Homo sapiens: one gene and its partners. The protein of the gene in region 7 interacts with the protein of the main gene of each other region in a biochemical or structural test. Each region holds a gene or a part of one and is shown on either strand. Other genes may lie near its edges. The genes, in order: CRHR1, PLEKHA2, SLC22A11, SHROOM3, SLC2A1, JAG1 and ARHGAP21.

Evidence for each region.
Region 1: the proteins of ARHGAP21 (region 7) and CRHR1 interact in a test that uses a peptide from one of them, tested with the Homo sapiens proteins (one large-scale study listed by IntAct).
Region 2: the proteins of ARHGAP21 (region 7) and PLEKHA2 interact in a test that uses a peptide from one of them, tested with the Homo sapiens proteins (one large-scale study listed by IntAct).
Region 3: the proteins of ARHGAP21 (region 7) and SLC22A11 interact in a test that uses a peptide from one of them, tested with the Homo sapiens proteins (one large-scale study listed by IntAct).
Region 4: the proteins of ARHGAP21 (region 7) and SHROOM3 interact in a test that uses a peptide from one of them, tested with the Homo sapiens proteins (one large-scale study listed by IntAct).
Region 5: the proteins of ARHGAP21 (region 7) and SLC2A1 interact in a test that uses a peptide from one of them, tested with the Homo sapiens proteins (one large-scale study listed by IntAct).
Region 6: the proteins of ARHGAP21 (region 7) and JAG1 interact in a test that uses a peptide from one of them, tested with the Homo sapiens proteins (one large-scale study listed by IntAct).

Annotation. Positions count from the first base shown.
Region 1 is NC_000017.11:45,818,375-45,822,454, forward strand, and holds part of CRHR1 (corticotropin-releasing factor receptor 1 isoform 2 precursor), read left to right. Parts: intron 1-2,980; coding exon 2,981-3,066; intron 3,067-4,080.
Region 2 is NC_000008.11:38,949,564-38,953,643, reverse strand, and holds part of PLEKHA2 (pleckstrin homology domain-containing family A member 2), read right to left. Parts: intron 2,795-4,080; coding exon 2,654-2,794; intron 1,479-2,653; coding exon 1,332-1,478; intron 1,009-1,331; coding exon 940-1,008; intron 348-939; coding exon 277-347; intron 1-276. UniProt on the Homo sapiens protein: Binds specifically to phosphatidylinositol 3,4-diphosphate (PtdIns3,4P2), but not to other phosphoinositides. May recruit other proteins to the plasma membrane.
Region 3 is NC_000011.10:64,562,257-64,566,336, forward strand, and holds part of SLC22A11 (solute carrier family 22 member 11), read left to right. Parts: intron 1-10; coding exon 11-179; intron 180-2,051; coding exon 2,052-2,172; intron 2,173-2,965; coding exon 2,966-3,081; intron 3,082-4,080. UniProt on the Homo sapiens protein: Antiporter that mediates the transport of conjugated steroids and other specific organic anions at the basal membrane of syncytiotrophoblast and at the apical membrane of proximal tubule epithelial cells, in exchange for anionic compounds.
Region 4 is NC_000004.12:76,742,562-76,746,641, forward strand, and holds part of SHROOM3 (protein Shroom3), read left to right. Parts: intron 1-246; exon of another isoform or gene 247-339; intron 340-4,080. UniProt on the Homo sapiens protein: Controls cell shape changes in the neuroepithelium during neural tube closure. Induces apical constriction in epithelial cells by promoting the apical accumulation of F-actin and myosin II, and probably by bundling stress fibers.
Region 5 is NC_000001.11:42,951,876-42,955,955, reverse strand, and holds part of SLC2A1 (solute carrier family 2, facilitated glucose transporter member 1), read left to right. Parts: intron 1-4,080. UniProt on the Homo sapiens protein: Facilitative glucose transporter, which is responsible for constitutive or basal glucose uptake. Has a very broad substrate specificity; can transport a wide range of aldoses including both pentoses and hexoses.
Region 6 is NC_000020.11:10,653,115-10,657,194, forward strand, and holds part of JAG1 (protein jagged-1 precursor), read right to left. Parts: intron 3,345-4,080; coding exon 3,284-3,344; intron 1-3,283. UniProt on the Homo sapiens protein: Ligand for multiple Notch receptors and involved in the mediation of Notch signaling. May be involved in cell-fate decisions during hematopoiesis. Seems to be involved in early and late stages of mammalian cardiovascular development.
Region 7 is NC_000010.11:24,713,379-24,717,458, reverse strand, and holds part of ARHGAP21 (rho GTPase-activating protein 21), read left to right. Parts: intron 1-4,080. UniProt on the Homo sapiens protein: Functions as a GTPase-activating protein (GAP) for RHOA and CDC42. Downstream partner of ARF1 which may control Golgi apparatus structure and function. Also required for CTNNA1 recruitment to adherens junctions.

The DNA of each region.
Region 1 (4,080 bases), on a different chromosome or scaffold from region 7:
TCAGCCCTCAGTGCCTGGGCACACACTTCACTTGCTGGCCCTGCCTGAAGTGGCAGTCAGGAGTCCTAAGTTCTCATTCCAGCTGCATCTGCAGCTGGTTAAGTAGCCCTTGGCACAGACCTTCTGTGGGCCTCAGTTTCTACACCTGCAGAATGGGTGGGAGGATTGAGTGTGGTGCTCTCTAGGCTCCCCCGCACTTCCCTCTGTGATCCCAGGAAAGGAGCTGGGGTGATGGCCTCTCGACATGGGGTCAGTCTGTGAGGGCAGGGCTGGAAGACCCCTTTCCAGGTGCCTCCAGCGCCAGATGAGGTGGAGCACGCCCGTGCAGTCAGTCACAAGTGGGTACCCAGAGCTGCACCTCATCATTAAGCACTAATTAATCCATTTACTGATGAGTTGCTGCCAGGACTTCTAGGCCTTCTCCCTAATGCCCTCCCTCCTGCTGCATCTGATCTTCAAAGGGATGGGAAGCATTTCCAAAAATATCTATTTTCCCGTGATTCTTTGGGAGGACTGCTCAGCTCAGCAATTAAAGACAAGGAGGTCGCATCCTCCCTGGCAACGGCTCCCTGCTTGTTGGGCCTGCTTTCTTTCGGATCACCTCCTTTCTCCCCATCAAAGCCTGCTCCCTCTGGGTGACCCAGCCTCTGATGGGACTCCTGACTCTCCCCCACATGTCAAGGGGGGCAAGGGTGTTGAGCAAAGGGGCTCCTCCCACAATATCCACCGGTACCCTTTGATGGGGACAAGGGACACGCTCTGAGTCTCACGTAAGGTTATATAAATACAGCTCCAAGACAATAATAATAAAAATAACAGCCAACATCACATCCCAGGTACAGTTCCAAGCACCTTGTGCATGTTAACTAAAAATATTCAACTCTTGATGTAGGAGCTGCTATTCAGATGCTCTCACTTACAGAGGAGGAAGCTGACAGGTTTCGGGATTTGCCCAAGGTCACACAGCTAGTGGAAGGTAGTGCCAGGATTTGATGCTAGGCTGTCTGGGTCCAGGGGCCACGCTCTTAGCACTACTCCATGCTGCCTCTTAACTCAAGAACCACCCCACCCCATCCCACCACCCCCGGGCCCCTTCCAGCCGGATCTCTGTCCCAAAGCCCCTATCCCTGGAGGTATTTCAGAGCAGCCTCTGGTCCCGGGACTTCCCAGCCATGGCAGAGACACTGGGTTCTCCTGGTTCCTCGTCTCACCCTCCCCTCAGACCTCCATGAAAACCCACTGGGTGAGCCTCAGCCCTCCGGTAACTCATCCCTCATTTGGCAATTGGAGAGAATCAGCAGCCTCTTCACCAACTCTGCCCAAGGGCCTGAGGCTCCCTGAGACTGCGGTCCACTGACATGGAAGAGCTTTAAAAATCCATTTAGCCGGATCTCCCACTGGCCAGCTGTAGCTGAGCAGCTCCTCAGCAGGGGGACCAGGGAGGGGAATGGAGGGGAGTAGTGCGAGAGAGGAGAGGCCACATCTACTTTTCAGCCCTGGAGGCCAGGACGGGCTCCCTATCATCACCTTCTTGTCCTGATGCTGCCAGCAGAGGCAGCTCCCAGGCTGGATGGTCCCTTGGGGATCAGCCAGTCCAGCCCCTCCTTTTATAAATGAGAAGGGGTCCCCAGAGGTCAGTCATGCAGCACGGCAGCAGCTCAGCTGGTCCCAGGGCCCCAGCCTCTAGATCCTCACAGGGTTCTGCCCCATGGGGCTCCAGACTCAAGGACTGGGACTCCAGCAGCTTTCCCAGCCCTGTTCCAGCCCCAAGGGCCACTGGGAGCCACAGGAAGGCCTACAGTGAGGGAGGCTCCAGGTGAGATACTCAGGGCTTCATTTCTCTGCCAGGCAGTTCTGCCTGAAGTCAGAGCCAGAATTAACTCAAGGAAGCATGTTTAGAGCTACTGATGCCAGAGCCGGGTACAGGGTGGGGTGGGGCAACCTCTGCCAGCAGAGAAGATGAGATGGAATTTAGAACTCATGCTGTCCCTTCCCAGCTAGGTTTTAGGACCCTGGAGCTCAAGCCTGGTAGGCATGAAGGAGGGTAAGGGGAACACGTTGGGCAGCTCTGCCCATCCCAGGGCCCTAAAGCCAGGCATCAATTCAGCTCACAGGGCCCCTCCCCATCTCCTTAGAAGGTGACAGGTTCTGGGCCACAGTCCAGGCCGGTGGCTGCACAAACCTCCATATGTCCCTGGGCCACTCTCCTGCCTTCCTCCTTGAGTGACATGGGCCAGGCTAGGAGCAGCTGTGACAGACCTGAGTGATGACATCTCCCCACACACGCCTGTCACCTGTCATTTTCTGTCCAAGAGACCTCCATCATGGATGTTCCCCCCACCCACAGACCACGACCTTCCAACACAGGCCCGCTATGGGGAAGTGCCACCATGGGACCTTCCCCAAGATCTGCCCCATGAACTCTGAGCCCCCATGTGCAGCACAGCCAGTGAGGACCTCCCACGGCAGCCTCTGTGAGATGGCTCTACCACAAGAAGCCCTGTCATGCCACCTGCCACGCGAGCTGTCACCGCATACCCTTCCACCGTGTCATGCCCAGCCTCGTGAAAATTGACTCATGAGGTCTCACCATTTTTTTGCTGTCTTGCAAGACCCCTGAAAAGGAGATTTCTCAGAAGAGCACCTACCTGTCATCTGCCACCACATAATGACTTGCAAAGGAACAGCCCAGGGAGCTGGTCAAGCCTGTCCACGGGCCAGTCCTGTGGGCATGATCATGCCAGCTTGAGTGGGCAGAGCCGGGGGAGCCACCAACCCCTGCTGGAGGCCAATGGGCAGAAAGAGGCAGGAAGATGGGGGTGGTAAGGAAGCCCCTCTCCCCAGCTTCACTACACAACCCCCAGCCAGCAGGTGCCTGTACTGGCCATCTACAGATCCATCTACGCATCCATCTGGGCCAGGATGGTCAGGCAGGGGCCGGGGCTGCCCCGCCATCACTGCCTCTCTCTTCCTTTTCCAGACAATGGCTACCGGGAGTGCCTGGCCAATGGCAGCTGGGCCGCCCGCGTGAATTACTCCGAGTGCCAGGAGATCCTCAATGAGGAGGTGAGGCTGAGCCGAACAAGGCTGCCCATATGGAGGGGAGTCCAGGGTCCCCAGCAGAGTTTTGTGCCTGCTACTTGGAGTCAGGGAGCCAGAGGCTAATGTCAAGGCCCTGCTCTAGTGAAGCTGACTGGGGAGCTGGAGCTGTCAACTTGGAAAAGGCCCATGAGCAGGCGCCCTCGAGGGCAGGCTGGACCAATGGGGCACTGGGCAGGCTCTGATGGTGATGAGATGGGTCCTTGTTCCTTCCTTCCTTCTCCCTGTGCTCATCGGGCAGCCGCTTGCACTGGGCATGGGACTGTCCTGGGGGTGCAAAGGGAGACCAGACTCGGTCACAGGAGTCCCACCCTTTTCCACAACACATGCCTGAGAGATACATCCAGTTCCAGCCACAGGGCTGTATGGAAACCAGGGACGGGATGGAGGTAGCAATGCAGTTTGAAAAAGCCCTTGGAAAGCCTTTTAAAATGTTAAATGTTTTTGAGCAGATATTGCTTACACAGAACTCAGAAGGTACAAATGGGAATACAATGTCCCCTCCCACCCCGTCCCCAGCCACTGGATTCCCTCCCAGAGGCAACCATTTTGCCAATTTCACAAGTGTCCTTCCAGAGACATTCTCCGCATACACGAGTAATTTTGTATACGTATTCTTTTTTGTTTTTACCTGAATGTTGCATGTTATACACACTGTCTACACCTTGCTTTTTTCATATAATCATCTATCTTAGAGATGGTTCCATATCAGTACATAAAGAGCATCTTCATTCTTTTTGCATTTGCATAATATCACAAAATGTACCATAACTTATTTAAACCAGTCTTTATTCTCAGTCTTTAGTTATTACAAATGCTGCTGCAATGAATAATCTTTGAAGGGTGATATTTGGCAGAGGCACAAATATATCTATCCTGGAGCTGCTACTGCCCTCGGTCTCTCCCACCCTGTCTCCTTTCCCACCCGACGCTTTCTCCCTTGGTGCTGAGGAAGACGGGGGTCAAAGGGCAGAAGGGGGG
Region 2 (4,080 bases), on a different chromosome or scaffold from region 7:
TGTTTCTATACCCTTTCTTTTTGCCCACCAGAAACTATTACGTAGGCCTATCTGCTTAGGAGCCAGAGTAAGGTATGGGAAGAGGGCAAGTGTGCCCAGGGCGGTCTCCTCCCTGTGTTAGCTTGGATGCAGTGAGTCAGCCACAAGGTGTTAGGCTCCTGTGCCTGGCTCTTGGAAGAAGATGACTCTTGCATAGAGTCTCTGAAGGGTAGTAAAGGGAGATTTAAGAGGACAAATGGAGGTTTGGATTAGAAGAGAAAAAGCAGACACAATTACCCAGACTTGACCAGACATTCATGGGTCTTCAGAACATCCTTAAGAAATATGGTGCGCAGTGGTTCTCGGTCCTGGTGGAAAGAACAGAAAGACAGGTAAGTGAGGCTGTCTGTGTCATATCACGACCCAGACCAGCTGACCAATACCCCTTTCTCAGAGATGGTTGGCTAAAATCAGGTTGACAAATAATCTGGTCTCAAAATAATCAGCAAGAGAAAAAAAAATCTGGCTGGGCAGAGTGGCTCATGCCTGTAATACCAGGACTTTGGAAGGCCAAGGCTGGAGGATTGCTTGAGGCCAGGAGTTCAAGACCAGCCTGGGCAACATAGTGAAATCCTGTCTCTACAAAAAATCCACCACTGTGCTCCAGCCTGGGTGACAGGTGACAGAGAAAGACCCTGTCTCCAAAAACAAGAAAAAAGACAAAAAAATATAAGAAGAAGATGTTGTGTAGCTATGACTCTGACCACACAGCAGCTCACTGCAGAGAGGACACTTTAGTGTCACTGTAAAGATGTGTGCACAGAATGGAGATAAGACAGAGGCGCCTTTGAAGTCTTTGTGTGCCCACATCTCCACTCATGCACGCTCTCCTGTGGGTGTGCACCTATGCACCTCTTAGTTTCCATGACCTCTCAGAAGGGCAGCAAAGCTACTACAAACCTGCTCACACTTGAAGTAGCAGATGGTAAAGTCATCAAGTGCAAAGAAGCGACGTTTCCAGCTCTTCCGCTGTAATAAAAAAATAAAAGGCAGACCATTAGCGAGAGGTGCCCAGCATTGTGGAGGGTGTACTCATGCTAAGCTCCCAAGGACCCAGCCCCATGGAAGTCCGGCTCCCACATTCAGCAGGGGCAAGGGCTTCTTCATATCAGGGGCAACACCTCTGACAGGTGGGAGCCAAAGGTCAGTCCCAAAATCTCACCCTCAAAGGTGGAGGCTCCATGGAGGACTGAGGCACCTCCTGTCAATCCCCTCTCACCTCTGCTATGTCTACAGCCACTGGCTCTGAGGAGTCACCAGAACCCCAATTCAGCCCCTGTGCTGACACTCACCACATTCCCTTGCTTCACGCAGTAACCACTCTTAATGAGGGGAGGCCCAGTGGAAGCACGGCAGCCTGACGTGGGGATGTAACTCTGAGACCTTCGAAGGATGGTGTGGGACCCGGGCTCACTCCCTTCCTGCCCATCCCCACCGTTCTGCAAGGAAACAGTGTCAGTATCAGCGCCTCCCTCCCTCTATGCAGCCACAGCCCCACCTACCTCCCTCTGCCTGAATCTCTGGCCTCTTTGCCCTAAGTCAAAGAAGAAATAAATGGTGGGCACAGTGGCTCACGCCTGTAATCCCAACACTTTGGGAGGCCAAGGCAGGAGGATCGCTTGAGCCCAGGAGTTCTAGACCAGACTGGACAACACAGTGAGACCCAGTCTCTACAAAAAAATTAAAAATTGTTTTAAAATTTTTGTTTAATTTTGATTTTAAAATTTAAAAATTAAAAAAAAGAATTACCCAGGCGTGTAGTCCCAGCTACTCAGGAAGCAGAGGTTGGAGGATGGCTTCAGCCCAGGAGTCTGACACTGAAGTGAGCCATGATTGCACCACTGCACTTCAGTCTGGGCAACACAGCGAGACCTTGTCTCTAAAAAAATTAAATAACAACATGGCAAAACCCCATCTCCAACAAAAAATACAAAAAAATTTAGCCAGGCGTGGTGGCACATGCCTGTGGTCCCAGATGAGGTGGGAGGATCACTTGAGCCTAGGAAGGCTGAGGCAGGAGGATTGCATGAGCCTAGGAGGCAGACGCTGCAATAAGCCGTGATTATGTGTATATGCACTTCAGGCTGGGTGACAGAGGGACACCCCATCTCAAAAAAAAAAAAAAAAAAAAAAAACTTAAATAAATATAAATAATTAAAACAGGAAAATAAACCTTTCCTTTCTCTGTCATGCACTCTACTGGGTACTTTCACAGAACCAGCATCAGGGAGGTTGGGCCGACCCAGGAGAAAGGGAAGGATAGGGAATGTGAACCAGCAGGGACACCAGGCTGGTTTCCAGCCTTGTTTGCCATGCTCTGTCCCATTTCCTATGGTTTCACAAACCCTCATCTTCTGTGTCTCCCGTGTTCGGCACAGAACTGCACAGGCCACATGGCTTCAAGATGCAGCAGCCTCCACTTCCGCACTGCCGTCACTAACACCCATGAATGGGGATGTAACATGACCTGTACTTTCCTGATGGCTCCACTGGCACCAGCTGCCCCCCACTCCCACCCTCCTTTTCCCCAGTACAGTGCTCCGAGCACATCATGGGCACACCATGGACACTTCCACACCCCCACTCCCCCCGCAGCCCCAGTCAGGCCCCTCACCTGGCTGATGGGTGTGTGGACCACCACCCCTCCAATGATCTCCGTCTTGTAGGCCACCTGTGGCTTCTTCTCCAGGGCTGGAGGAGCTGCTAAGCTCTTGAGAACTTCAGTGGTCATGGGTAGGCCCCCACCTTTGGGAACCTGGGGTGAGCGGCAGCAACAATCAATGGGGAACAGAACATTTAGGAAACATGGGGAGCCCAAAACAGAATGGGGCTGCCGTGAGAAAAGCTCATGTGCCAAATTACAGTCAGACTTGCGTGTCCTCCCCAAGCCTTCCACAGTCCAAATCTGAATATGAGCATCTCAACCAGCAACGCCCTCCCCCTACACAGATACAAACTGACTCCAGGAATTTCTTGAGCGCCTACTTATGAGCCAGCCCTTCCCTGGCTAGAAACCAAAGATAAAGTGTCAAGCGAAACACACGTGGGTCCCCACCTTCACGGCACTTACATGCTAGTAGGGGGAATGACAAAAAAAAACGTAAAACAAACAGAGTAATTACAAATGGTGGTGAGTGGCACAAAGAAGATCAAGAGAGCTGAGGCAGCGCACAGCAGGGGACCTGCTGGAAACAGAGTGGGCAGGGAGGTCTCTAGAGGAGAAGGCAGGGAGACACTCAAACGGCAACCTGGAGGGTAAGCAGGAGATGGGGGCCAGGTCCGGGGCCTCACACCTGTAACCCCAGCACTTTGGGAGGCCAAGGCAGGAGGGTCACTTGAGCCCAGGAGTTCAAGACCAGCCTGGGGAACATAGTGAGATCCCATCTCTACTAAAAATGAAAAAAAAAATTAGCCAGGTGTGGTAGCACACAGCTGCTCAACAGGCCAAGGTAGGAGAATCTCTTGAGCCCAGGAATTGGAGGCTGAAGTGAGCTATAATCACACCACTGTACTCCAGGCTAGGTGACAGAGACCCTGTCTCGAAAAAAATACAAAATAAAAAACTAAATAAAAGGAACCAGGAACATGAAGCTGGGAGAAGGCATTCTGGGCAGATTGAACAGGTAAAAATGCATGCATGCCTTTGTAGAGACAGAACAAGGGGTCCATGAAGTCTGGAGCCAGAAGATGTGTGGTATAACCCTTCACCTCTCACGAACCACCTGAGAGACCTTTGGCAACCATCAAACCTTTCTAGGCCTAAACCGTCTCATGCATAAAATGAAAAGTGGAATAATATTTATCATAACCATCGTTGTGGTTATCAAATGATAGAGTATATTAAATGCTTTAGAAACACAACTAAAAAGAAAAACATATTACAAAATATTATAATTAAGGCTTCCCACGTTGTTACTAATAATTATACACAGAGCCCTTTTGGAAGAATGAGCTATCTTTGCTCTTCCTTGACAGAGATATGGTACCACAGCTGATCAAATCATCATAAAATTTTTATTGTTAGTTGGAAATCACAGGCCA
Region 3 (4,080 bases), on a different chromosome or scaffold from region 7:
CATCCTTCAGTGGTGGAGTGGACCACGACCAGCAGGAGGGCGGTCACCATGACGGTGGTGGGATGTGCCTTCAGCGCAGGCCAGGCGGCGCTGGGCGGCCTGGCCTTTGCCCTGCGGGACTGGAGGACTCTCCAGCTGGCAGCATCAGTGCCCTTCTTTGCCATCTCCCTGATATCCTGGTCAGTATGATGTGGGACCTTTTCCTTAGGAGACCCAGGGTGGGAGGGGGACTCTTCACTTTCACCTCTCTGGCTGGCAGTAGGTCCAGAGACCTGGAGTGCCACAGAAGGGCCATGGCATGAGCGGCACCCTCGCTAGGGAGGGACATTGGTGATTGGCAGTCCTGGGCTAAGTGTTGCAGCCCGAGGTCCGTGGCTCCCATCCAGCCCAGACAGGCCAAGATGGGCTGGCACAGCATTGGCTCAAATGGTGATTTAAAAAATACATTTGTAACTAGTTGCTAACATTTAAAAATCAGAAGATTTTCAAAAACAAACAAAAACAGTATTTTTTACCTTCTTTGGAAAAACTGGAAGATCCAGGGGCACTGGGCTGAACTTCGGCCACAGTGGAAGCGGCCGCTCTCCCGGTCCCCAAGGCCCCACTGCCGCTGTCCCCTGGGCTGAGGCTGTGAGCATCGTCCTTCCTCAATACTTGCACCAGCCCCCACCCACCAGCTTCACTCCTTCACATACAGTGCGGACCAACATTGGATATGAAAATAGATTGTTGTCACTACAATTTTAGGGGCCGCAAAAATCCCTAAGGTCTGGAAATCCCTCCTTGGGTTGGCACTGAGGAAGGAGACACAGACAGGTGCAGAGGGTCTTAGGTGCTGGGGACACACAAGTGAACAAAACAGGCAAAAACCAGTGGCCCCGTGGAGCTTACGTTTCATACACAGATCAATAAGTGAAGAGGAAGGCCATCCCATAATTACAATAATTAGGCCATCCCCGCCACGCTGATCAGGTGTGTACCAGGTGCAGTTTATAACACTAGGTGCGTATTAACACACCTTCTAATAAGTAAGATGATGCGATTACCACCATTTTCAAATGAAGGACCGAGACCTAGAAAGGTTAGGTCACTCACCCAAGGTCACACACAGCCGGTGAATGCCAGAGGCAGGATTTGAACCTAGGCAGGCTAACTCTTCACCACTACGTCAGACTGCCTCCAGAAGTCCTTCTTAGCTTCCCTGCAAACAGGGCTGAGAGCCGGTGGGTTGGGCAGATCCTGTGCCTTCCACCAGGAAAGTGTTTCTCCTGGCCCACCTGCCCCTGAGGTTGGGGAGAAATAGACTGGTTTTATAAAATCACCTGGTTCTGCCTGGGGATATTTTAAATGTGCTAAAAAAAAAAAAAAAAAAAAAAAAAAAAGGCCGGGCACAGTGGCTCAAGCCTGTAATCCCAGCACTTTGGAGGCTGAGGCAGGTGGATCACAAGGTCAGAAGATCAAGACCATCCTGGCTAACATGGTGAAACCCCATCTCTACTAAAAATACAAAAAAATTAGCCATGGTGGTGCACACCTGTAGACCCTGCTACTCAGGAGGCTGAGGCAGGAGAATCACTTGAACCTGGGAGGTGGAGGTTGCAGTGAGCCAAGATCGCACCACTACACTCCAGCCTGGGTGACAGAGTGAGACTCCATCTCAAAAAAAAAACAAAAAAACCCAGCACCAAGTGACCTTTCTATCCTAGAAATAGCCCCAGAATCACTGGTGAAGCAGCCAACTCTAGGGACACCCATGCCCAGGCCACCTGTGCCCTGGCTGTGTGCAGGGCTCAGGTGGGCAGGCCCCGGGCAGCCAGGCGAGCCAGATGGAGGTGGCTCGCTTGGGAAGGTGGGCGGCCAGGCATTGGGACTCAGCTTTATTCTGAAACCGCTGGGGACTGCCAGGCTCCTGGCTGGGCAGCAGCGGCACAGAAGCATGTGCTTCCTCATCACTCATCTCAGCTGGAGGGTCCGTGCCCACTGCCCCTTTCCACCCCGCCCCGGGGGAGAGCCCAGCGTGCACTCCCAGCTACACACCTGCCTCCTTACAGGTGGCTGCCAGAATCCGCCCGGTGGCTGATTATTAAGGGCAAACCAGACCAAGCACTTCAGGAGCTCAGAAAGGTGGCCAGGATAAATGGCCACAAGGAGGCCAAGAACCTGACCATAGAGGTGAGATGCTGCTGTCTGCGAGACTTGACCTGGGACAGGACGTGCACTGAGGGATCATCCGTGTGGCCTCCAACAGCACCACCCACTCCAGCACCACCTCCACCAGCACCACCACCAGCATCTCCACAGACACCACCAACACCTCCATCACCACCTCCACACAGACACCACCACCACCACCACCAATCCCGATACCATCACCAACAGCACCACCACTGTCCACACCCACCATCACCTTCACTGCCATCACTCCATCACCACCAGCACCACCAATACCATCACTAACCCCACAGCCACCATCTCTGCAAAACATCTCCACCACCTTCACCACCATCGTCACCATCGGTAACAGCACCATCATTATCAACAGCACCCACACCGTCACCTCCATCACCCACCACCTCCACCTGCATGTAGCACGCACCCACCTCATGGGGGTTCTCGATGTGTCTGGGGAAACAGAATGTGTTTATTTGAAGGTAGCTGCTTTCAGGAAACAGGCGCTGCCAGAGATTAGAGTGAAGATGGGGTCGGAGGATAAGGGAAGGCTTCCAGAAGGAGGCAAGCTAGAGCTGAGAGGACCAGGGCTGAGTCAAACCTGCAGAAGAGCCAGGGCCTGGAGAGAACCTTTTCTGCCCCATCCCCTCCCCTTCCCCTAGGGATCCAGCTTCCAGAGGCCGAGGCCCAGGACAGGCTCCCCGTCACTCTGGCCACTTGGACACTGTTCTCTGGCACAGGGGGTGGGGCAGGGCCATTGCCCTACCATTCACGGTGCCCCCATTCTCCCCGGAAGGTGCTGATGTCCAGCGTGAAGGAGGAGGTGGCCTCTGCAAAGGAGCCGCGGTCGGTGCTGGACCTGTTCTGCGTGCCCGTGCTCCGCTGGAGGAGCTGCGCCATGCTGGTGGTGAAGTACGCCGTCCTGGTGTCCCTCCCCAAGGCAGGGCTGGGACAGGCAGGAGGCAGAGCTGGGACAGGCAGGAGGCAGAGCGTCCAGGGGAAACAGCACCCGCAGGCCTCAAGGGGGTGCATTTCTGTCTGGGACAGGACGCAGACAGCCCCAGCAGGCAGGAGTCCTGGCAGGCAGCAGAGAGGGACTATGCACAGGTGGGATCTGGAGGCTGCCATCTGCAGGAAGCCAGAGGAAAAGGCAGCTCTAGGCTGGGGGTCCCAGGGTCCCAGGGAGGTCCCAAGACAGAGGCAGAGCCAGGGTCCCTAGAGCCAGGGGACCAGCCACGGCCGAGGAGTACCACTGTGTGTCATCGTTAGAGACTTACCACTTTCCTAGAGACCATGGCCATGCTCCTAGAGGGTGAACCTGCATTCGCTGACCCCTCCATGCAACCCCACTTCACTGATGGGGAAAGAGGATCCCAGAGGGGTAAGGAACAAGCCCAAAATAATAGAGCCTGCATTGGAACCGGGCTGAGCTAACACTTGGCTTACCGGCACTGTCACTGCCAGGGCCCGCGCGACCAGACCCTGGCCCTCCCCGGGACCCAAGGTCATCTGGGCCCAGGAAAAGGCCCTTAAAACAAATTCAGTTCCGGTGACATCCAAAAGAGCATATTAAAAAGCAAGGACCAGTCAGGCGCGGTGGCTCAAGCCTGTAATCCCTCACTTTGGGAGGCTGAGGCAGGAGGATCGCTTGAGCCCAGGAGTTCAAGACCAGCCTGGGTAACATAGTAAGACCCTCTCATCGCTACTAAAAATCAAAAAATGAGGCAGGAGGATCACTGGAGCCCAGGAGATAGAGGCTGCACTGAGCTGAGATTGTGCTACTGCACTCCAGCCTGGGCGACAGGGCAAGATTCCGTCAAAGGAAAAAAAAAAAAACCTAAGGACCTGGTTTGATTGGGACTTTTATCTTGAAATAAAACTGAAGTTTAGGAAAACGTTTCTTTTATGCTA
Region 4 (4,080 bases), on a different chromosome or scaffold from region 7:
AATAAGAAACTCAAAATCTCACATAAAAGGATTTTCTAATAAAGGCACCAAATGCTGCAAGGATTATAAAGTACTTTCCCCTGAAAATTTTAAGCAGTGCTGGGAATAGAAGCTGAGCATTCTGACTCCTAGGAGCCTGTTAATTTCCCTAATTCTTAGCCTATCCTCAGGCTTCACTTCCACTGTAGACCAGGGGCCTGCCTCATGCTTCCCTTCCCACCAAAGACAATAATAGGAATCACATACCTGTTAGCACAGGGGAGGAAGAACTCCGCTCCACTCTCCCCTCTCAGATTCTGCTGTTTTCCCTTTCAGAGAAGTCAGCCATTCAGCAAGCATCTGTAGAGCATGTGTTGTATGAAAAATGCTGTGTTACAGCATCAAAGGATACACAAAAGGAAAAAATAAGGCTCATGCCTTTCTGGAGTTCACAGTTAAGCAAGGAATACGACCTTATATGTATAAATCTAATATGACTAGTGAATGCTTTGGGAATAGTGATCAATAATATGCTATGGAAAGGAAAGTGATTAATTCTGAGGTGATCTGAAAGTGCTTCTCCTGAAGGGAAATGGGATTTTGGGCCAGGATGTAAAAGATGGGCATGATGACAAGAGATTAGGGGAGAGGGGATGCATTGATGGGAAGAAACCAGTTCAGACAAAGAAAGATTCAGCAGTTCTGGCTGAGAAGTTTGCTGCACTCTATCACACGCATACAGCAACAAATGCTACTTGCTCTTACCAGTCAGATGCTTATAGGGCAGGATTTTACAAGTTTTTGACAAGGATTTAGCTCTTTTTCAAAATTCTCATTAGGGAGGCCTTTCTGCCTCCAAAAACAAAGTCATCATGGAAATCAGTTCCTCTGTATGTGACGATTGATCCATCTCTGGCCTGAAATAATGACTGCAGGAGGCTACCATTTTGAACTACTTGTAGCCTGAGACCTTCTCATATATTTGGCAGGTCTGGCCTCTTCCTCAGCCAGCTTGAAATCCTCTCTGAAACATGCAACCTTCTATTTTCTTCTCCTTTAATTCCTCTTCATTGCAGAACAATAGATACTAGTGATGGAGCTTAAGTGCACATCAGACTCTTGCCTGTTTCCTTCTGAGAGAAAATACCGTCCCCTCCCAGATGTTTTCTGTTTAGAATTGTACAGAAATATTTTCTCCCAGTATAAATCCCCGACAAATATAGAGGCAACTTCCCATAAGCCTTCAGTAGCCTTTTCCTTCCTTCAGAATGAACAGAGCTAATTCCCACTCCCTATCCTACCACTAACACACATTTAAAATCCATATATGTAACACACAATTTCATTTAGCTTGATGGATTTTAGCAACTTAACTGCATAGCAGTCTAGACACCTTCCTTTCTCTCCCCGTGTTTCAAAGAAAATAAAAATGCTTAGGTGAAAACCAAATCATTATTGTTTATTCCCCATTAGATATTGTTATTTTGTCTTAGAGGTTGGTTGGATGGCTATGAATGTTATTTTATCTTTCCCCCCAAATATTTCTTAAGCCTGGTTGATTAAGAAATAAAGCTAAAACATAGGCGTTGGGAGAAGTGAAGAGATTCCTCCAAATCCCAATTAAATACTTTGTATTATTTGGAAAACTTTTTAGAAAGACAAGTGAATACAAAACAGTACTTGGGCACCCTTTTCATAAAGGGAATGCCATATTTAGATGTTATTTAATTTGGGGAATATGCAGGCAGAGAGGGAAATATTTCCAAATGAAATACTTCTTTTGTACTGCTTTGCTCCAACAAATACTGAAATTTCTGAACAATGCATAGTCTCTTATATTGTCACTGTGCCAGGACTGCATTCTTGAGCTTCCTCCCTCTCCTGGTCTCCTGCACAGCAGCCAGACCTTAGCTGACTGGAGAAGCATCTCATGGCAAGGCGGTCTGCTCCTTGCATCCTCTTCATCATCTGCCTTATTTGTAGTTATGATGAGTAAAAAATAAAACAAAGTTACTCTCACCACATAACTATTGTGGTTATTATATACATATTTTTCCTATTGAATAAATTTCAAGAACATTATCAGTAAGCTTTTGGGAAGGTTTGTTAATCAATCATTTTTCTCATCCTTGCTTTAGAGAATTCTGACAAGTTAAGTGAACTTGTAGAGACTGTCTGCCTGAGTTAAAACCACAATGTGGAGTGTGTTTCTGCTGCTGGCTTAGTTGATGCTATCTCCAACAAATGTTGCTTGCTCTTACCAGTCAGATGCTGACAGGGCAGGATTTTACAAGTTTTTGACAAGGATTTAGCTCTTTTTCAAAATTCTCATTAGTGAGGCCTTTCTGCCTCCAAAAACAAAGTCATCATGGAAATCAGTTCCTCTGTATGTGACAATCGATCCATCTCTGGCCTGAAATAATGACTGCAGGAGGCTACCATTTTGAACTACTTGTAGCCTGAGACCTTCTCATGTATTTGGCAGGTCTGGCCTCTCCTCAGCCAGCTTGAAATCCTCTCTGAAACATGCAACCTTCTATTTTCCTCTCCTTTAATTCCTCTTCATTGCAGAACAAATAGATATTAGTGATGGAGCTTAAGTGCACATCAGACTCTTGCCTGTTTCCACTTTCTTTCTGTGAGACCTTGGAAAAGTTAACCTGTTAAAAGTGGGTAGGACCTGCAAAGCTATAGAAAGATAGCCAACATTTCTGCCTTAGAGACAGAAATGTATATCTGTTCATTGCATAGATTTAAAATATAGTAGAGACTATAAAGAGAAACCCTTGGAGAAATAAGATTACTGGTGGGGATATTTCCCCCGGATGCTGAGTTAGAGACTTCTCTGGTTCTCACAGTATTTTCAGGGAACTTCATGTCTGATGTGTAACATAATCACTATGAGATGGTGTGACAAACATTACTGAATTGCTGAGGAAATTGCTCAATGCATGGAACCACAGTATTGGATATAGGCTTGATTCTGTGGAATGCAACTCATAAGTCTTTTTTAGCACCTTTCTACAAGCACACATTTAAGCTTATACAAAATAGAATTGACTTTCCACAAAATGTGAAGATACAAATAGCTAACAATAATCAAATTTTTGCTGTGTGCCAGTCATTGTACTGTGTTTTATAAGTATAAAATTAGTCTTGGCTGGGTGCAGTGGTGCACACCTGTAATCCCAGCACCTTGGGAGGCCGAGGTGGCTAGATTGCTTGAGGCCAGGAGTTCGAGATCAGCCTGGCCAACATGGCAAAAACCCATCTCTACTAAAAATACAAAAATTAGCTAGGCATGGTGGTGTGCATCTGTAGTCCCAGCTACTTGGGAGACTGAGGCACGAGAATCGCTTGAACTCACGAGGCAGAGGTTGCAGTGAGCTGAGATAGCGCCACTTCCCTCCAGCCTGGGCAACAGAGCAAGACTCTGTCTCAAAAAATAAAATAAAATAAAATTATTCCTCACATCTGTGCAATGAGGTAAATACTATTATTATCTCTAAGTTACAGAAGAAGGAACCAAGTCACCAAGAGGGTACAAAATTTGCCCAAGGTAGTAGAGTGAGGTTTTCACCCCATACTGTCTGACTGCAGAGTCTTTAAGTCACTATACCATGCCATCTCCTGAATAAAAAGAGGCTGGGAATGGGGAAACAGAGGCAAGAGTTAAATGTTCTATATCTGAAAATATCATCCAATGAATTTATTTCATTTTAACATTTATTACTATTTCAGTCATGCATCATATAATGGTCAAGGATGGACCACATATGTGACAGTGGTCCCATAAGATTATAATACCATACTTTTACTGTATCTTCTCCATGTTTAGATACAAAAATACATACCATTGTATTGCAACTGCCTACAGTATTCAGCACAGTAATATGCTGTAACAGGTTTGTAGCCTAGGAGCAATAGGCCTATACCATATAGCCTAGGGATGTAGTAGTCTATGTCATCTAGTTTCTGTAAGCACACTCTATAATGTTTGCACAAGGACAAAATTGCCTAATGATGCATTTCTCAGAACATATCCCTGTTGTTAAGTGACACATGACTGTATTTTTCACATCAGATTTTTCATAAGGATTT
Region 5 (4,080 bases), on a different chromosome or scaffold from region 7:
TTTGTCTCCTAGGAAATGGGAACTGACTTAACTAACTTCCCCGTGTTCCATTGTGCTCCTCTGTAACTCACAGTAATGAGCTTAGCTGAATAGGAAGTAGGGGACAGATGGAATCACCTTGCCTACAAGCCAGGGGTTCGCCCACGATCTCTCCTGGGCAGCACGCAAGGGTGAGCCCTGCCCCAGATGTCTCACCCCACCCTTCGTGAAGAACTTGTAACTAGCCTTGCCTATGCCCATCACTCATCACTTTTCTGGCCAGTCTCTACCTTCCAGAAAAGGAAAAATCAGAAATCTGCAGGCTTTCTCAGCCCCTTTGTGGTGCAGACAGCATAGTTTTTTGTTTTTTGTCTTTTTTTGAGACGAGGTCTCACTCTGTCACCCAGGCAAGTATCTTGGCTTACTGCAACCTCTACCTCCCAGGCTCAAGCGATTCTGTCACCTCAGCCTCTTGAGTAGCTGGAACCACAGACATGCGTCACCGTGCCCAGCTAAATTTTTGTATTTTTGGTAGAGACAGGGTTTCGCCATGTTGCCCAGGCTGGTCTCGAACTCTTGAGCTCAGGTGATCCGCCCACTTCAGCCTCCCAAAGTGTTGGGATTACAGGCGTGAGCTACCGCACCCGGCCAAACATAGATGTTTGCATATGTGGTTTTGAATCCCAGCTTAGCTTAGTTGCCCAGTTTTCATCATTACAGTGTCTAGGAATTCAGAAAAGAATGTACGTCTCTGTCCCCATAGATGCTCCATAAATATTTCTTGCTTCCTTGGACTCCCATGATGCCTTACCTGGGCTGTGGGTGACTTGTACCTGGGCCTTGGCCTTTATCCAAAAGCTGGCATTCTGGCAGTATGAGCTTTTGGGGAGTCAGGATGCTGGCCCATGGGTATTAAGTCAGGTAAATCATTAAAGCTCCCACTAACCCATTCTTCCTAGTAGGGGCTTGTTGGGAAGTGAGTAGGCATGGCACATGGGTGAGAGTGCCAGGCCAGGGAGGGTCAGCTCATGTGAGTGCCCTGCGCTGCTTTGGGCTTCTTTGCTTTGCTTTTTTGCCTTAGGCTTCCTGCCTACCTTTCTGAATTTGGGTCACCCTTGGGATAGTTTGAAAGGGACATTCATGTCCATTAACTCCAAGGGTCCTCACAACTGCCCTGTGATACAAGTTACAGTGACCTCATGGTCCAATAAAAAATGACTTTGCCAAGATCACACACTGAGCCTCCCACCCCAAGACATGCTGCCAGCCTTTCCAGGATGACATTAGAGGGTGGAAGGAACCCAGAGCAGGAGGGGCCTTCCAGCCATGGCCCAGCCCTCCATTTGACAAATGGGGAAATTGAGTCCAGAGAAGGGAAGAGATTTGTCCGAGATAAGGCTATCACAAAAGATTTGAGGCGTTCTATGGAGCTGTGTTTTGTTTTGATTTTTGAGACGGAGTTTCGCTCTTGTTGCCCAGGCTGGAGTGCCATGACACAATCTCAGCTCACCACAACCTTCGCCTCCCAGGTTCTAGTGGTTCTCCTGCCTCAGCCTCCCGAGTAGCTGGGATTACAGGCATGTGCCACCATGCCCGGCTAATTTTTTTGTATTTTTTTTTAGTAGAGATGGGGTTTCTTCATGTTGGTCAAGCTGGTCTCGAACTCCAGACCTCAGGTGATCCGCCCACCTCGGCCTCCCAAAGTGCTGGGATTACAGGTGTGAGCCACCGCGCCTGGCCTAGCTGTGTTTTTTTTTTAAAGATGCTTTCTTCTCCACATGCCTGTCTGTGCCATCCTCCACCCACCCCAAATGAGCAGGAATCCCCAGACACAGGACTTGCCATGCCATAGGAGCCTGAAAGTTGGATTAGACGTAACTTGACAACTGAAACTCTACTGTGAATGGAAACAAAACACTAGATGTTCCCACTAAACTCTGACCTTGAAGAAGTGGCTTTCCTTGGAGCCTTGGTTTCCTTCTCAGTAAATAGAGACTTGGCTACCCCCAGTGGATGTGGTGAGACTGGCCCCGTGCCCTAAATTAGAGAAGTGGCTATTTTAAGTGGAAAGACCCTTTGTAAGGCCAGTCTGGGTGTACAAATGATGTAAACAGCCCCAAGATGATCCTTGTCTAGTACCGAGCCATCCAGGGATTCGACCCTATTTGCCCCGGAGCTGGGCCAGCCTCAAATCCCCCGTAATCAGCTTGTGACTTCAAGGAGCTCAGCTTTGCCCAGTGCCTCCTGGTCACGGGGTGTCGGCCCAGAGCTCTGCTCAAGTACCAAGGGTACAGCCATCCAGCTCCCTGCTTCCCCAAGACTGGCAAAGCTGGGGAGGCCTGGAACAAAGAGGAAAGTGTGCAGTGTTGGCTTGGGGCCTGCAACCTCACCCCTTCCCCCACCTCACTCCTGGGCATAAAGGTGATAAAGCCGCTCACTCAGTCTGCAGTCTGGTAACCGACGTCCCCATGATGGCGGAGGCTGGGAGGCCTCCTGACCAGATTCATGGGCTCAGAGAGGCTGTGTCCAGGCCTGCAGGCCCAGCCCTGGCTACCCTAACAAGCCTCCAATTGTTACCTCTCTCCACGGGAGGGGTGGACTGGAGCCTGAGGCTCTGTCTTCCAGCCACCAGGCCTGGCAGTAGCTGATGCATAAACATTAGGGTTTTGCAGTAACTGAGCAGGGCTCCCAGGCCTTGAACCTGGGCAGAAAGAAGACAGCATCTCCTCTCTTTGTGACCACACTGACTTGCCTCCCTGAGGCTTCTGCACCCTGGAATGGGAGAGAGCTCTTGCCAGGCCTCAGCTGATGGAGCCTTTGGCTACTGAGGCCTCTGCTGGACAGGAAGTCTGCCTATGTCTCCTAGCCCAGTTTATCTCCCCCTGCCCTGGCATTTGGGAGTGGGGAGGAAACGGCTCCATCAGAAACAGCTCTACCATTGGACCTTAGGCCAGCCACACTTCTTGTTGGAGCTTGTGTCCTCAGCTGTACTGGGGATGAGAGCTAGCTGTCTGGGTCAGCGGCACTGAGGCTCCAGGGGAGCATGTGGTCTGTGCAGCAGGCTTGGGGAGTGCTGAGCAGCACAGATTGGGTTTCATAGCACAGTGGGAGCCCAGACAGGCCAGCTAGCCATAAGCACCTCTGCTGGAGGAAGAGGTGGACTCTCTTGGGCTGGAGGGCCCAGTTCAAGGAAAGAAACAAACAGCTACACTGGGCTCCTTGATCACCCAGCTGTGGCAGTTCTTCTTGAGGACTTCCTGCCCCTAGGTGGGGGCTGCCTTCAGCTCCCTGCTGCGTGTGATAACTTGGGTGTGGCCCTCACAGCTGTGCAGAAGCTATTCCCAGAGGGTTCTGGCCCCAGGTAAACAGATTCTGCTCTGGGCTCGCCTTGCCTCCATCCCACAGCCCTGTGTGCTGTCTGTGGCACAGCCTAGAGCAGCACTGCCTCGTGGCCCTGGCCCTTATGCGGCTGGAGCTGATCCTGAAGTCCAGTGTCCCAGCGGTCATGGCTGGCATCATCACCATCTACAACCTGGTGATGGAAGTCCTTATCCCCAACTCGCTGATCGACTGCATCAGCCTCTACGGGAATCTCCTCCAGCCAAGCGCTAGGCTGAGTGTGGGCCTGAGTGGCCCGGCAGCCAGCTATGTCATCAGCACTGTGGGGGACACAGTGCTGCCTAGAAGCCCGGGCTATTTGTGGGCTTGATCCTGATCCTCATTTTCACTGCATGGTCTCATTCTCTCCACAAAGTAGCCTTTGAGCCCACCAGCCACAGAATGTGATATAAAGATCACCCCTGCTTATTCCAGAATGAACAGCCTGAGACACATATCCCTTCAGTAGTTGGTCTTGTGAATGCAGTGTCCTAGTGCAAATGCCCATCATCTGTTGACCCCATCCTTGCCCCTGCCTGCCCCATGCTGTGGATATCTGGGCCCCCTCATCACCCATCCTGGCCCCCTGACCAGTGAGGATGCCCCCTCCCATCTAGGGTACTCTGCGTCTAAGGATGAATTCCAGTGTAATTTTCTCTCTTCTGTAGGTTTATTTATGGAAGATTGGACCTGTTCATACATCTGTGGGGCAGCCCTCCATCT
Region 6 (4,080 bases), on a different chromosome or scaffold from region 7:
GAGAGAAAGGGGCACCCTCCCTTGGCCAAAGCCAGAGTAGGCTCTCTAAACCCACTTCTATAGGGAAGGAGAAGGAAATGACAACACTTGGAACCAACTCCATAATTTGTGTCCCATTACTGTGTGCTAATTTATAGTGATTTCTTGCTTTGCCAAGAAAAGAAAAAAAAAAGAAAGCAGTCTGCTTAATTTATCTAGTATTGGCGGAGTTGAGGTTCTTTTATATAAGCACCTTGATTAATCATACTCTTTTGGGGCCAAATAGTGCCTCTGATCCCCAAGCAAAAACAAAAACAAATACAACAACTTTCATCTGGGGTGGGAGAGGGGGCAGCGTCTCAAACCACTCTCCCTTGAATTTTCAAGCCCTCTGAAACTTTAATTGCCTTCTCAAGAGCCAAGCTTTAACAAGGGTGGGGGAAGGCAGGGAGAAACATCAACTAGCCTCCCGGTGGAGCGTGGAGGGTGGAGGGTGGAGGGTGGGGTGCGGGTGGGATGGGCAACATGTTTCCAGAACGGGACCTGGGAAAAGCCACGATCAGCGCCAACCCCCTAAGCTGCTCAGCTGTAACTCTGGAAAACAACCCCCGCCCCCTCTAGCTCCCCAGAAGGAAAGGCTTTCGGTTTCCCAAGAGCGGGAGGCAGGCTAGCAAATCCTTGTCATGGGAAAATTATAGGGATCTAGCTAATAGCTAATCACCCACGGCTGAGAGTCAACTTAACCCCTGAGAATACTGACTAACCACTTCCTAACTTCTGAAACCAAGCTATGCACACCCACATGCAAAGAAATCACTAGAATGTGTGGTTTAAAGTTAGACACTGGATTCTGGTTTATGTAAAATGGAATGTCAACGTGACAAGTGACTAAAGGAGTAAGATAAGAACAAAATTACAATCTAAATAATTTCTCAAAAGCGGACACCCACGTTAGTGGGAGGTAAGGGTGTAGCCATTCTGTCAAGGCTGATATTCTTAGCCTGAAAGATAGTAAGAGGGAACTGATTACGAAATGGCAATATTCTCACCGTCTTCCCTTATTCTCTTCCAAATTCAGGATCACTAGCCCTCTTCAAGTTGCCTCATAAAGGCAAGGAGAGGCAGCTGAGGACCCAACCTCACCTAATTAAAGAGACCTCAATCCCCAAGCATAAAAAAGCAACCACAAGAGGCCATGGATGACTTCAAAAGAAAACAAATAAAAATACTGACCCTAAAAGAGGCACCAACCAAGTTATCCCAGTTTAATAATATATGATTAAGATTCTCATGAGAAATTGAAGTGACTTTCCTCAGATGATGATTCATAATTAAGTTTGATATTATTGGCAGGCTTGCAATAAGCAAGCATGTATACCCAGGGAAAGGGACTCAGTCTACTTGGGAACAACAAAAACCAGTAAATTTTCTCATGTGGGGGTGAAAAAAAAAATAACCTGTGTAATACATAATCCAAAAGACAACTTGCAGGTAACTTGCCATTCAACTATTTCTGCAGCAGGACACAACCTGAACTTCCTCAGCGTGAAGGTTCTGTTTTGACTTTCTTTCAAGGTAGGGAGGGAAAACTGGGCTGGGAGACTATGCAAATGATGTGTGGGAAAGTCGCACCTTAAGTAAATAAGGCCATCAGTGCGTGTCTGGGCAGGGAGAGGGAGGTGGGACTTCGAAAGAGAAAGGGCTAAATTCTGGAAACAAAGCCTGTTGTTCTGGCTGGGAGGGCCCTCCCCTGTATAGCTGTATGTGTGTTCTGATGACAGCAGCACAAATCACAGTCGGCCTCCGCTGATATCCATCTGAGCAGGCAGCAGGCTTGGAATCACTAATAGCACTGCCATTGGGACTTTCTCCAGAACACCCTTAATTAGGAAGAGTTAAGGTAGGTGGATTCCTGCTCCGCATTGGACAGCAATGCTGTTAAATACTACAGTCCATCGCCACCAATGGGAGACAGCAGGAGAAGCCCCTCAGCCTTCCAGGAAATAAACTATCTTTCTGAAGTGTAGGAAGAGACAATTCGGGACAACCAGTTCTTAATTTAGTTCCATGTTCCCCCTTGCATGGGAGGGGAACAGACGGAGCGGTGGAATCATAAAGGTAAAGGCCACAGATAGTTCTCTTTAAAGGAGTAGCCTCAAAATTTACTAAGCAGCAAAGTCATGTGGCCAGCTTGTCAAATGCAGACTCCTGGGCCAAACCAAGGACTAGGATTCTATGGATGTGGGACGGAGCCCACGAACCTGCATTTTAACAGCTCCCTTGTTAATTCTGGAAGTTACACTTTGAGTACTGAGGTCTGGGGGCAGTGATTGCTGATGGTTCCATCAGCAGCATCGCTTGGGAGCTTGTTAGAAATGCAGAAACCTGGGCTCAGCCCAGACCTATAGAATCAGGACCTGCGTTTTAATAAGAGCCCCAAATAACATTAGTTTGGGACATACTGGTTTAGACTATGTTTCATAAGATTCCCTTTACTCATGTCAGAGTAGCTTTGGGGGCAAAAGTGACAGGCTCAAAGGATCCATTTAGCGTTACTCCTTAAAATTTGGGAGGAGGGAGAGCAAAGCATTAAGACTGCCAAAAACACCACAGACACCAACAATATTTCCCAAAATAAGCCTTTTCCAAACGGGCGTAATATAAATTTCAAGAAGTTCCAAAACCCGCCATCGTGAAGTGGTCAGGGCAGGCCTCCCTTTGGCTTCCGCATTGTTCCTGGACCATAAAGGAACAGACTTCAAAGGACTGCAGCAAAAGTCTACATTCATCAGGCTCAACTGACAAGATTCCAGGGCAGCCATTAACCTCTCAGCACCAACCCAGCTCCCGCCTGCAAAGGGGCCAGGAGATTGGACTAATCCCATTCTAAAGAATGCTGGACTTTCGCCTATTGATGGGAAAAGTCGGGGAGGGGGCTGGGAGAAGAAAGCCTTGGTGGAAGAGGAGAGAGACGCAAAGAAACAAGCCCACATCCCTCCATCTAGCCCATCAGCACTATAAGGGAAGATTATAAAAATGTGTTATCAATTTACAGAACAGTTAATACATGAAGTCACTGGCTATGCCCAAAGAGTTTCTTTTTATTCCAAGAGAGAAGTGGTGTGTGCATTCCACCAGACAGCTGGTATAATTTAATAAGCTTCGGATGTGTCTATCTGAATTTTTTTTTTAAAAAAGCTTTCTTGTTCTCCAAGGAAAAAAGAGGCATAGTCACAATAAAGTCAGTTCCTCTCTTACATAAAGGAAAATTAAAAGAAATCTCACAAAAGACCAGTTGATTTACCTGCAGTCACCTGGGAGTTTGCAAGACCCATGCTTAGGACTGCAGCCTTGTCGGCAAATAGCTGTAAAAAACAGAGAAGGGCGTGTCAGCACACTGCCTGTTCCTTGCATCGCCCCGGTCATGAGAATGGCCCATTGCATTAAAGTCTGCAAATTCCACGATTTTAACAGGTCTCATATCAAGTCCCTTGTAAGGAGAGGAAGATGGGAGGGGCCCAAATAACAAAACCAGCTTTAAACTTCAAGGCCTTGTTAGCAGATTCTGAAAACATGATATTGTTTGGGGACAAAATGCAGACAAGTTGACGAGGGAAGGGGGACCTTCGTCCAGCCTCTCTAAACCACAGCTACCCTGGCTCCTTGAGCAGAGCTTGGTCAGTTTCCATTCTGCCCACACCCTTTTCATTAGAAGAAAAAAAGGTATAGATAATCCTTCCCCATCCCACCAGGACACATTCAGATGAGCCTCAGCCTTTAAAAAAAAAAAAAAAAAAAAAAACAACCCATACCAAATGCCTGGTTTGAAAATTCCATGGGACTAACAGAGCCAGCCAGGCTGGACTCATTGGGCAGGCTAATCTGGTGGCCAGATCTGGTGAGACTTTTATAAAGTATCCTTGCAGAGCAATTCTCTACTTCGTTTAAAAAAAAGAAAAAAGTAACTTCTAAAAAATGTCAGTTTCTAAGACCAGGCAACAGTGGCCCATGCCTATAATCCCAACACTTTGGGAGATTGAGGCAGAAGGATAGCTTGAGGCCAGGAGTTCGAGACCAGCCTCAACAACATAGCAAGACTAT
Region 7 (4,080 bases):
TTCTCTCAAAACACCCTGCACTTTCAGGAATACCAGTTACAAGTTTATCTATATCCCCCTTGGATTGCAGTCCCTATAAGAGCAGGGACCATGTTTGTTTCCACAGGGACTGACACATAGTAAGTGTCAGGTGATATTTTTTGAATGAATAAATGAATATGCAGGAAAGGCTTTACATTTTATTCAGTGTTCATTTAGATTCCCGGACATTATACTCTCTTGATTATCTTCCTTCCTCGTTGTCACCTCCTTCTGTCTCTTTGAGGTTTCCTCGACATCCTGATTTGCTAAACCTTTCTACACCTCAAAGCTCAGTTAATCCTCATTTCTTCTCCCAATACTGTTTCATGGTTTTAAATATCAAGTATATGCAGATAATTGACACACACACACTCACTTATATTTCTTTATGTGTACATGTGTATATCTCTATTGCTGACCTGCTCCTCTGTCTCGCAGAATCAGATTCCTATATCCAACTGACCTGACTGCCTAGAATCTCCATTTGAATAGTAAATAGGCATATCTAAAACCACAATCCTGACTCTACCTCCATTCCCCTGGCCCACCTTCCCAAGTATGCTCCTTCCAGTCTTCCTCATCTCAAGCAATAGCAATCCCATCCTTCCAGGCCAGGCATCTTGGAGTGATCTTTGATGTCTCTCTTTTTTCTCATATATGACATGTGGATCTGGTTGACTGATTTCTCCACTTCAGTCCTTGCCAGCCTAAAGCCTGTTCTCCACACAGCAATCAGGACAGACAATTTATAAATCAAGTTGTGTCATTCCTTTGCTCAAATTCCTCAAATGGCTTCTCATTTCTCTGAAGATTGAAGGCCAAAGTTCTTGCAGTGACCTGCAAAGCCCTGTATAATTGGTCCTTCCCCCTCCCTGAGCGCACCTCCTGTGCCTCTTCCCGCCTCACTCTGTGCTAGCCATTCTGGTCTCTTGCTTTTCTGCATGTACACAAACGTGGGAGTCCCCAGAGCCTTCCCACTCACTGAACCCTCCCCTTAGAACACTTCCCCCAGTCTCTGCACAGCTTGCTTCCTTGGCTCCTTCGGGCTTTTGCTTAGAGGTCACCTTCCGAGTGAAGCTTTGCCAACCACTCCCTTTGTTGAATGCCCCTCCCCTGCTCCCTGTGCCATGCTCTGCCTTCCTTCCTTGCTTTATCTCCCTATCACTTAGTCTCCACCCGGCATGCTTATGCATTTGATTTTGTTTGTTTATTTGAGACAGGTAATATATCTAGAACGCAGGTGTTGAGAGTGCAGTTTGTCTGTTTTGTTCACATTGTGTTTCTTGTGCCTAGAAGAGTGCCTAGCACATAATAGGTTGTCAATAAATATGTTTTTGGAATGAATAAAGACTTAGCAAAACTCCAAAATGTTACTGAGTTTGCATTTGGACATGTAGTATGTGAATTCTTATTTATTTTATTTCTTTTTGAGACAGAGCCTTGCATTGTCACGCAGGCTTGAGTGCAGTGGTGCAATCTGCGCTCACAGCAACCTCCGCCTCCCAGGCTCAAGTGATTCTCCTGCCTCAGCCTCCTGAGTAGCTGGGATTACAGGCGTGTGCCAGCATGCCTGGTTAATTTTTGTATGTTTAGTAGAGATGGGGTTTTGCCATGTTGCCCAGGCTGGTCTCGAACTCCTGATCTCAAAGTGATCCACCCACCTCATCCTCCCAAAGTGCTGGAATTACAGGTGTGAGCCACTGCGCCCAGCTGAATACTTATTTTAGTTTATATAAAATATGTACAGTATGAAATATGTTCTTCCTTAGACCTCCTGCCCACCTTAAATTCTATTTCATTTCCGTTAGAACTGCTGTTAAAATTTTTGGTGCCTTTTTTCTTTGCACCTTTTTTACCTTTGGGAAGCTGGTAACCAAGTAACAGTAACCAAGACAATGTGTAGTACAAATGTATGAAACAATTTCCACTAAGAGATGAGATCATGATAATTAACAGACAAGTGAAAGGGCAATCAGACTGGTCGATAAGAGAAGCTATAAAAAGATAATCTGTATGGATGATGTTTTATTTCTTAAAACGAATGGCTAGTATATGGATGTTCCTTATTATGTATTTTTATTTTTTCATGTCATAAATATTTCATAACCAGTTAAAAAAAGATCACAAACATTGACCGTGATGAAATGTTAACAGTTGTTTATTCTGAATGATGAGAATATCAGGATTATATTATTTTTACATTTTCTCTTTTTTATTACCAAAATGACAATAAAAGAACACTATGTATAGACTTTAAAAATAGGTAATATGTATTCAGTCTTGTGAAAATTTGGTTTGTGGCAAACCTACACTGCTTAAAACAATACTAAAAAGCATACACACTGCTCAAAGCAACACTTAAAAAACAATTTTTTCTTTTTCTTTTCTTTTCTTTTCTTTTTTTTTTTGAGATGGACTCTCACTCTGTCGCCCAGGCTGGAGTGCAGTGGCGTGATCTTGGCTCACTGAAAGCTCTGCCTCGCGGGCTCATGCCTTTCTCCTGCCTCAGCCTCCCGAGTAGCTGGGACTACAGGCGCCCGCCACCATGCCTGGCTAATTTTTTGTATTTTTAGTAGAGACGGGGTTTCACCGTGTTAGGATGGTCTCGATCTCCTGACCTTGTGATCTGCCTACTGTGGCCTCCCAAAGTGCTAGGATTACAGGCGTGAACCACCGTGCCCGGCCAAAAAACAATTTTTAAAAAGCAAGTTTCTTCATTGGAGGCATAGGATTCATTCTAGACTAGTTACAGTATGGTATAACTCTATTATTTAATTTTAATTTTGTGTTTCTTCATACACCTGAATTTAAGTGTCAGAATACTGTTCCATGCCAAAAGTTTTATGCTGCAAGTTAGGGTTAAAGCTAAAACCTGTTAGAATTGAGAATGATGGCAGTAGCAGCAGCAGGGATCATTAAGTGGCATTTCGGCAGAAGCCTGGATTTTAATGTATTGAGTGGGGCCTATCACTAGATAAGAGCCATCAGCAAAGTGAGTACCCAGATCTAAAGAATTTCTCCGTAAATTGTTAGTGTTCCTTCCCATTCATTTCTTCCAGGTTAAGCGTTTTATGAAGTTCATTGTGCCTTGATGTTCTTCATTTCTTTAGTTACTACCAGGTCAAGTAATCTAGCACAAAGGTAATATTCAGTTTCTTTTGTTCTTTGCTTTGTGAAGGGTCCTGTCTTCTTATTATAGTTAACAATATGCTGATTTAAGTATGGGCAATGCTAGCGTTGATAAGATGCACAGATGCTGTTATTCAATGCAGCTATTTTCTGTTACAGAAAGACCATATGGTAGGCACTTGTTTTTCTGTCTAGTTGATGTGATTAGATTACTAAAACGAAAGGTTATTGGACTTAAAGATTGTCCTACTATTTTATCTAATTTTAATTGACTGTAAGTAATTAAATGTGTTAAAATATTGTAAGCCTTCCATATCTTCCCTGGTTTGAAGTAGAAAGATATCTAAATGCAAAAAACTCAATTTTGGATTGCTTTCACTAAAATAGTTTTATGGTTTAAGTTGCCATGTTCTTATAAAATTGGGTATTGTGCAAATTATTTCACAATCTAATCTGGATGATGGCATTTTGTGCTTCTCAAATAATCCAAAAGACAAATGGATATATTGTACTATAGGTTTGAGAAACTTGATGTGGGCTGGACGTGGTGGCTAATGCCTGTCATCCCAGTACTTTGGGAGGTAGAGTCGGGAGGATTGCTTGAGCCCAGGAGTTTGAGACCAGCCTGGACCAAATAGGGAGACCCCCATCACTTAAAAAAAAAAAAAAAGAAAAAAAGAAACTTGATGTGATGGAAATGTTTTATAAGTCCTCTTCTAGTTATCTATTTAATGTGCAAGAATTTCCACTATGTAGATTTGTGAATAAAAGAATAGATTGAGAACCCAAATTTGATATTTCTGACTATTCATCTGTTTCGGGGTAAGTAGACAGATCAGAAGAAACTGTTTATTATTGTAAAAAATAAAAATAAAAAAACAGGGAAGTTAAAGACTTTATTTACTTTTCCCTGGTGACTAGCTGCTGAGT